2 separate regions of the Homo sapiens genome follow, and region 1 is linked to region 2. Evidence: fine-mapped expression QTL. A gene starts in region 2. The other region holds a variant in brackets. All regions are shown on one strand. Distances are between the middles of the regions. Region 1 has its middle 33 kb from the start of DACT2. Region 2 holds the start of DACT2 (dishevelled binding antagonist of beta catenin 2).

What was found. PIP is the estimated chance that this variant, and not a neighbour inherited with it, causes the effect. A credible set is the group of variants that fine-mapping cannot tell apart.
Region 1: its variant is the best candidate, but not a certain one, in a credible set for the expression of DACT2 in hippocampus (GTEx, PIP 0.66).

The regions. Positions count from the first base shown.
Region 1 is chr6:168,284,942-168,289,331 of GRCh38, forward strand. It overlaps the pseudogene CTAGE13P. Among named protein-coding and RNA genes, the nearest start is that of DACT2, 33 kb to the right of the region's middle. The variant A/C (reference allele first, on the strand shown) is at 2,194.
Region 2 is chr6:168,317,491-168,321,880 of GRCh38, forward strand. It overlaps DACT2 (dishevelled binding antagonist of beta catenin 2), which reads right to left and starts at 2,287. Exons shown (of 4, transcript NM_214462.5): 1 at 1,898-2,287. The coding sequence starts at 2,143.

The DNA of each region.
Region 1 (4,390 bases), 33 kb before region 2:
TCATTCTTCACCCACAAATGGGTGCCTTCATCACCCACAAATGGGGAACTCATTACAACGGGGAACTCGATGTACCTTTTCCTAATTTGCAAGAATTTTCAAAGTCTTTAGATAAATGACTGTTATGGGTTGAACTGTGTCTGCCCCCAAAAAGCATATGTTGGCATCCTAACCCCCAGTATCTCGGAATGTGACTCTATTTGAAAATAGGGCTGCTACAGTGGTGATTATGTTAGAGAGTGATTATTAGGGTGGCCCTAAACCAATATGACTGGTGTTCTCATAAGAAGGAGCAATCTGGACATAGAGACAGACAGACACAGAGGGGAAGACGGCTGTCTGCAGGCTACGGAGAGAGGCCTGGAGCACACCCTTCCCCTGCTCCTTCAGAGAACCCACAGCCCTGCGGCATCTTGATCTCGGACGTTGGACCTCCAGGCCTGGGAGACGACAAATTCCTGCTGTTTAGGTCACCCAGGCTGTGGTTCTTAATTATGGCAGCCCTCGAAAACTTATACAAAGATAGTACATTTTAACTTAACAAAAAAATGATGCACCTCAAATAAGGAGTATGCCCACGGAACTAACGCTGCCGGCAACCCCAGCACCTGATCGTGTTCATAACGACAGTGACCATTTATGGAGCACGTCCTCTAACTCTGCTAGTGCAGACACCTCGGCATTATCGCATCCCTCCGCGGGCCAGGTAATGACACCCCCAATCCACACCGAGCAGGCCAGACCGCCAGGAGCCAGGAGGTCGTCTGGATTCATGCAGCGCGTCAGCCTAAAACCGGGATCCACCCAAGCTGCCCCGCTCAGGATTAACCACGCAAGACGCCGCTGCCTGGGACTGGCATGGGAAATGTTTCCTTCCGTGACTGGAAAACTCTGTTCCTTTATAAAAATGGTATGAAAACTTGATAGGAAAATTGGGCAAAAAGCACTTCCCCTCAGTGATTAAAAGAATAAAGTTCTGACGGCCTCTTGTGCTCGCATTTTTATATGGCTGGAGCCTCCTATAACCGCTATTCCCCAATCTTCTCTAATCTCGATCTCCTATTCTCTATTCAGCCTTTGTACTCTGCTATGTTACACATTTTTATAGTATTTGCCATCTTACAAAATCCCTTTCTTGTTGAGATATCCAAAACGATTATCCTAATGTCTGCACTATATTCCAAGCTACAACAACCCAGAATTTGGTGAGTCTTCTTCTACTGATCCGCAAGCTGGGCCCATTTTCCGGGATCCCACACAACGCTGCTGTCAGCGTCTTTGCTTGTGTGGGAACTGAAGCCAAGAGCTCACACTGATGAGGCAGAGGACAAAAGTGCCCGACTCTGGGGACCTTCAGCACAGCCTGAGCTCGGAACGGTCAGCTCCTCCCTTGAACTGACTCATTGCCTGGTGTCTGGGTCTGTCCTTGCTGTGTGCTTCAACCCGGGGCACAAGAATGAGAGGGTGACCCCAGACCTGAGCACGAGCACGCTGTGCGTCGAGCACCTAAGTCCACACAGTGCTTGGCCTCTGTCTTCTCACCTCCCTTTTCTTTCTTTTTTTATTTCTTAAATCAACTAAAATTTATTTAATTAAGCATAAAGTTACTTACACATTTGCCTACAGCCACAGTAAATACAGTTCTTGGCATAAAGACAAGGCCTTTAGAATTTAAAGCCTCCCCACCTGCAAGATTACATATATAAAACTCCTACTATTTTTATATAATAGTGGACTAGTTAATCAAATTAAAATAGTTATACTATCTAGAATAAAATAAAATGGAAACAATTTATTCATAAGATTCATATTTAAATCATCCTTATTTACAAAATACTATCCTAAGAATTATAATTCCATTAAGTTTCAATATGAGCAAAAGTGTAATCACTTGAGTAACAGCAGTTACTTAAACTGAAAATGAGATCAGTGAAAATGACTTTTGAAGAGAGCAAAAATATTGTCAGGTTTCTTGCTGTGGTTCTGATGTTCCGTAGCAGGCTCATCTGAAGGCGGACTCAGCCCTGAAGGGAACTCACTTCAACCCTCAGAATGTGGGGGCGGGGGGAAAAATCCAGGTCTTGGGGGAGGGTAAGGAGGAAAACCCCTCGGTGGATAGACGTTTCTCATTGCAAACGGAGCATGTGGTGGACCTGGGAAATCCCCTGGTGGAAAATAATCTCGAGAAGCTCC[A/C]AACCTGGTTCCTGGAGGAGGTGGGGGGAAAGGAGGTGCTCTTCTCATGAACGGGCCCCTTGTATCCACTGGAAACAGTGGACCTCTGATTGGAGCAAGAGGTGGAGGAACAAAGCCAGGGCCAGCTGCTTCATTTTCAGCGGGGAGAGATGAATCAGGCACATTTAAATTACCAAGATCATCTTTGGTGTCATTTCTACTGGATTCCATTTCTGAAGGCATTGACCCATCCATTTTATCCAAAGAAGGCATATTAAAACTTCTGAGTTCTGCTGGTCCAGACAGTCTACCAGAGTTAGAGTAAAATCTGTCTTGCCTTTGTGGAGGAAGAGCTGAATCAGGATATGATGGTCCTGGTGGAGGAAACATCATCCTATGGTCCTGTTCCCATGGAGGTGACAGGGACCCAGTGTCAGAAGGAGCCCTGTGAGGATCGGTTAACCTATCACAGCTTGATTCTCCTCTTTCCTTGGTAATCTGATGGTCCGGAGGATTCCCTGGGCCTCTTGAGCCTCTTCCTTCTCCCCCTGGAGGCGAAGGTGAGAGTCTGAGTGGACCCTTCCACAGAGTTGGAGGATAGAGAAAAGCTCTCGTTTCAGATGAAGGCCGACCCAGTGGTGAGGGACCATATGGGGAATGCTCTCTGCCAAATGCAGTATTTGGAACATCAAGTGCATACGGATCTTTTTTTAGAAGTTTTATTTTATACTCTGTTTCAGCTAATTTTTGTCTGTTGTGAGCATTTTCTTTCCTTAAATCGTCGAGGTTTCTTTCAGCAGCCCAAGCTGCCAACCAGTTATGATGTGCCTTTTTCTCATGGGAAATAATCTTCCTTTGATAAAAATGAATATTTCTGTCAAATTTGTCAAGATCTTTGGCTCGCTGTCTGTAGGTCTCCAGCTCTTTAGTGGCATGGCTGCTCATTTAGTCTACTTTAGAAAGTTTCTCTTCTTTCTCTAACCGGCTATTTTCCTCTACTATTAATTTCCTGTAGAGTTTCATTTCATTTTCTTTATATAATTCAGTCATTACTTTAAGTTTCTGTTGAAGCTTCTGATTCTCACTTTCAAAATGTGTGTTTTCTAACTGCAAAGATGCTTGTTCAGTCTGAAGATTTTTAATATGCTCTGTAAGCTCTTCCTTTGTTTTATCAACTTCAGATAACTGAATATAAATTTGGTTTCTTTCTCCTTCTAAGGTTTCAAAGAAGCATTTAACTTAGCGGCAGGAATCAGCTTCTTCAAAGCTCCTTTGGAGGGATCATCTGAGTGAGCACCATCTTCCGATTCACTGTTCACTTCTAAGTTACCATCATCCGTTGTGTCTTCTCCAAGCCTCGCAGCCCAATCTTTCATCTTTAGCAAACGTTCGGTCAGAGTCTCGATGCGATTTTCTTTATCACTTAGAACTTGTTCTGTGTGTACTTTGGAGTCTTCAAATGTTCTTTTCTGTTTATTAAGTTCACTCACTTCTTCTTTCCATACTTCAGCTTCTTGCAAAAGCTGTTTCTGGTTTTCCTGAAGTTGAGAATTTTCATTCAAAGCATCTTCTATTGTTATCTTCAGTTGTTCTCCGTTCATGTGAAATGTCTTGAAAGTCATTTTGCCTTTAGCTATTTGTGATTTGAGGGATTTTGACGCATCTTCCAGCAACTGTATCCTTTTGGAAATATCTGCTATCAGTTCATCTCTTTCAGAATGTTTAGATTTCTCTTCTTTTAACTCTTTTTCTAGACAGAGTATTTCATGCTCAAGCTCAGAATTTGACCTGTTCAGCTTTTCACAGGTTGCCTGCAAACTTTGTGCTTCTGCTGCCGCCTTCTCAAAGCTGGCATCCTCTAACGATGACGCTACTTCATAGCCTTCATACGCTTTTTGAACGAGGCTAAATTTTTCAAGTAGTTTACATTTTTCTTCAATTAGTCCAGAAAGCGCTACAGCAAGTTTTTTCTCTCTTCCCACATAAAGCCGACTCCTAACAGATCTAAAACTTCTCCACAAAAAAAAGGGAACAGCAAAAAATCCAACAGCAGCTGCATGTATCACCAATTCCCATGGAAAACCGTAAGGATGAGAATCCGGTCTCATACCGTCAGGCAGTGCTGCCACAACCCTGCGTCGCAACTCCAGGATCAGCCCCAAGCACGGCTGAGGGGTAGCCCTAGGGTCCTCCGTAGCGCCAAGGCTGCTCTGGCGGT
Region 2 (4,390 bases):
GTCGTGTGCTGAGCTGCAAACACACAACAGCATCTCGGCAGCACCTCCCTTCCCATGTGTGTAACACGTCTGTGGCTGTCGTGTGCTGAGCTGAGGTCACGCAGAAGCTGCGATTGTGTGTGGTGCAAACACACAACAGCATCTCGGCAGCACCTCCCTTCCCATGTGTGTAACACGTCTGTGGCTGTCGTGTGCTGAGCTGAGGTCACGCAGAAGCTGCGATTGTGTCTGGTGCAAACACACAACAGCATCTCGGCAGCACCTCCCTTCCCATGTGTGTAACACGTCTGTGGCTGTCGTGTGCTGAGCTGAGGTCACGCAGAAGCTGCGATTGTGTCTGGTGCAAACACACAACAGCATCTCGGCAGCACCTCCCTTCCCATGTGTGTAACACGTCTGTGGCTGTCGTGTGCTGAGCTGAGGTCACGCAGAAGCTGCGATTGTGTCTGGTGCAAACACACAACAGCATCTCGGCAGCACCTCCCTTCCCATCACATGTGTGTAACACGTCTGTGGCTGTCGTGTGCTGAGCTGAGGTCACGCAGAAGCTGCGATTGTGTCTGGTGCAAACACACAACATCTCAGCAGCACCTCCCTTCCCATCACATATGTGTAACACGTCTGTGGCTGTCGTGTGCTGAGCTGAGGTCACACAGAGGCTGCGATTGTGTCTGGTGCAAACACACAAACGACCTAAACAGACGGCCAGGATTTGGTCACTGGGTGAGTAAACAAAGTCTGTACACCAGCTACTTTCCTCTCAGGAGGCATCAGGGGCAGAGTTGGGGGCCCAGGTTAATCCCACACAGTCTACCACCTCCGTCTTCCACAAGGTCAGGAGATAACGGGGAACCTGGGAGGCGTCCCAGACACTGGACTTCCTGATTCTTTAATCCAGAAGGGTTTGCTATGTTAACAACCTGGCTGAGCGAGCGAGGCAGACGGTCATGCCGCAGCTTCACCTGGGCAACATTTAAAGGCAGTAACTTTTAACAGGACAGACTTAAATTTCTAATGTAAAAGAAATTTCACTTAGTGTAACAGAGGTAACACAAGTAAACATATCTTTCTCCAGCCTTTTTAGTTTGTCTTTAAGAAAATACAGCAACTACGAAAACGCTTGTGAGTTGTTTCCAGTAAGTTTAACAAAATCATACAATAACATAATAAGCAGAGGGGTAATGAGTGGAGTTCCTTTCATTGTGTGAAAGGAGGGGTTCAGAGCGCCCAGGGAGTGCTGAAGAGGGCCCGTGGCAGGGAAATCAGAGTCTCTCTCCTCTGGATCAGAGGACACGCCTCTCCTTACAGGTCAGGTCACATTTTAAAGTTGAAGAGGCCTTTGTCAGTTACATGCTTTCCCCCAATACTTTATTACAGTGACGCGACCTTAAGAAAAGTCAGCACATTCCTGAGGACAAGTCGGGGTGCGCTTTACCACGCGGACACTGTTGCCCCTAACCCAAGACAGCAGGGGGGACCTGGTCCCCGGGGGGGGAGTGATGCCAGGATCCCGAGCCGACCTCCGCCAGGGGAACGCCGGTCAGTGCCTGCAGGTCAGATCAGTGCTGTAACCCTGTAACGAACAGGGTGTCTCTCCCAAATCTGCCAGCTTCGGGATGCTGGCGTGGGTAGGCGCACATCCACGCACGGCGGAGCGCGGGCTGCAGCCCCGGGCAGTTTTCAGGGTCCTCACCTGTGCGCTTCACCTCTAGGCACCTGCGCGCGGGGCCTCCATGTCCCCCTCCTTGGAGACCGAACTGCATTCCATTCAAATCCCAAAGGACGTCCCCTCCATCCATCAGACACCCCCGTCCCACTAACACACAGTCGCTGCCGAAGGAGCAGCGCCTGTGGCCCGCACACCTCGCAGCCCCGAGTCCCGGCGCCCGGTCCTTACCAGCTGCTCCTGCAGCGCGGCCAGCGCCGCCTCCAGCTGCTGCTCGGGGCCGTGGAGGCCGTGGGGGCCGCAGGGCGCGGCGGGCGCGGGCGGGGGCTGCAGGGCCAGGGCGCCCCGTACCCGCTCCTGCTGCGTGGCTCGCAGCCCCTGCAGCTCCTGCAGCCCCGCGAACGCCGCGCGCAACCTCGCGCCCAACCTACGGCGGTCCCAGCCCGCGGACCCCGGGGGTCCGCCCGGCGTCCACATCTCCCGGGCAGGGTCCCGGCCTCCCGAACCCCACGAGCGGCGCCGGAGGCCCAGCGCGCGCGGATCCCGAGCTGTGTCGCGGGTCCTCCTGCGCCTCCTCTCTCCGCCCCCGGCTCCGCAGGTCGCCAAGGTGGGCTGGAATCTGTGGCCAGGCGCGGAGGGCGGGGTCTGCACGCGCCCCGAGGTCACCGCGGCCTCCCCCGGACCCGCCCCGCCGACCCCCCAGGGCCCCTCGCCGGCTGCGGGCAGGGCGGGCGCACCCAGACCCCGGGGCCAGCTGAGCGCCTCCGTGACTTCAGCGGGGAGGGCCAGCCGGGAGGAGGAGCCCGGGGGAGAGGGGCAAAGAGGCGCAAGTGGAACAAAGGCGGAGAAAGGCTTGTTAATGTTTTAAAATGTTTATAAAGATAAACTATTGGGACATTATCACATTGCAAGGACCGTGTTACCATTACAGACGCAGTAGAGATTTCAAAACCGTGTTACCCACGTTTCCCAATGGGTATCTGCAGTTTGGAAACCGCACCTCGCTTTTTTTTTTTTTTTTTTTTTTTTTTTTTTTTTTTTGAGACAGTGTCTCGCTCTGTCGCCCAGGCTGGAGTGCAGTGGCGCGATCTCCTCTCACTGCAACCTCTGCCTCCCGGGTTCAAGCGATTCTCCTGCCTCAGCCTCCCGAGTAGCTGGGACTACAGGCGCCTACCACCATACCTGGCTAATTTTTGTATTTTTAGTACAGATGGGGTTTCACCATGTTGGCCAGGCTGCTCAGCTTGCTTTTTAAATTTTTAAAATAATTGCTTAAGATGCAGTTCACATACCATAAAACTCACCTAATTTAAGGTGTACAGTTCGTTTTTAGTATATTAACGAAGTTGTGTTCACCACCCCCAAAAGAAACCCTGTTCTCATCGGTAGCTACCCCCATTCCCTCTCCTGCACCCCCACACATAGAACCACCACCCCGCAGGTTCTGGAAGTTCATGGAAATGGGGTCACACGCCAGGAGGTCTCTGTGGGGGCTCCTTTTGGTGAGCGTTTTCAAGGTGCGTCTGTGCTGCAGATTGCGTCAGAACTGTATTCCTTTGTGTGGCTGAATAATACTCCACTGCATGGCTGTGCCAAGTTTTGTTTATCCATTCATCTGCTGATGACATGTGAGTTGTTCCATTTTTTAGCTATTACGAATAACGCTGCAAGGACATTCCTGTATGAGTTTTTGTGTGGCAATATGTTTTCATTATACCTAAGAGAGGAATGGCTGGATCGTAGGTGACTACCGTGCTTAATCTTGTGAGGAGCTGCCAGGCTGCTTTCCAAGTGGAATCACAGCAGCCAGCGGGGTATGAGGGTTCCATTTCCTCAGTGTGCACACCAACCGCTGTCTTTAGTCCAGCAGATGTGAAGTGGTATCTCCCTGTGGTTTTGATTTGTGTTTCCCCGATGGCTAAGGACGTTGAGCATCTTTCCATGTGCTTGTTGTATACTTCCTTTGGAGAACTGTCTATTCAGATCCTTGGCCCATTTTAAAATTTAGGTTGTCTTTTCGTTATTGAGATGTGAGTATTCATTATACAATTCCCTTATCAGACATGATTTGCACTTCCCTTATGAAATACATGATTGACAAATAATTTTTCCATGTTGTGAGTTTTTTTCATGTTCTTGATAGTGTCCTTTGCAGCAAAAAATGTTTGTAATTTTGGTGAATTCCAGTGTATCTACTTTGTTGTTGTTCCTTATGCTTTGGGTGATCTAACAGAGCATTGTCTAATCCAAAGACAAAGTTTACAGCTATGATTTCTAAGATTTTGCTGTAGACTTAGCACTTACATTTAAGCCTTTGTTCTATTTTGCATTAATTTCTGTATATGGTGTGAGGTAGGGGCCCCTTCTTTTACATACCCAGTTGTCCTAGTACCATTTGTTGAAAAAACAATTCTTTCCCTGTTGAATTGTCTTGGGACCCTTGTTGAAAATCAGTTGATCCAGAAATCAGTTTCTGGTTTCTCAGTTCTGTTGCGTTGCAATATATGTCTATTCTTATGCCAGTACCACACTGTTTCAATCATTGTAGCCTTGTAATAAGTTTTGAAGTCAGGAAATGTGAGTCCTCCAATTTTTTCTTTTCCAAGATTGTTTTGGCTGATCTGTGTCTTTTGATTCTTTTTTCTTCTTCTTCTTCTTCTTCTTCTTCTTCTTCTTCTTCCTCTTCCTCTTCCTCTTCCTCTTCCTCTCCTTCTCCTTCTCCTT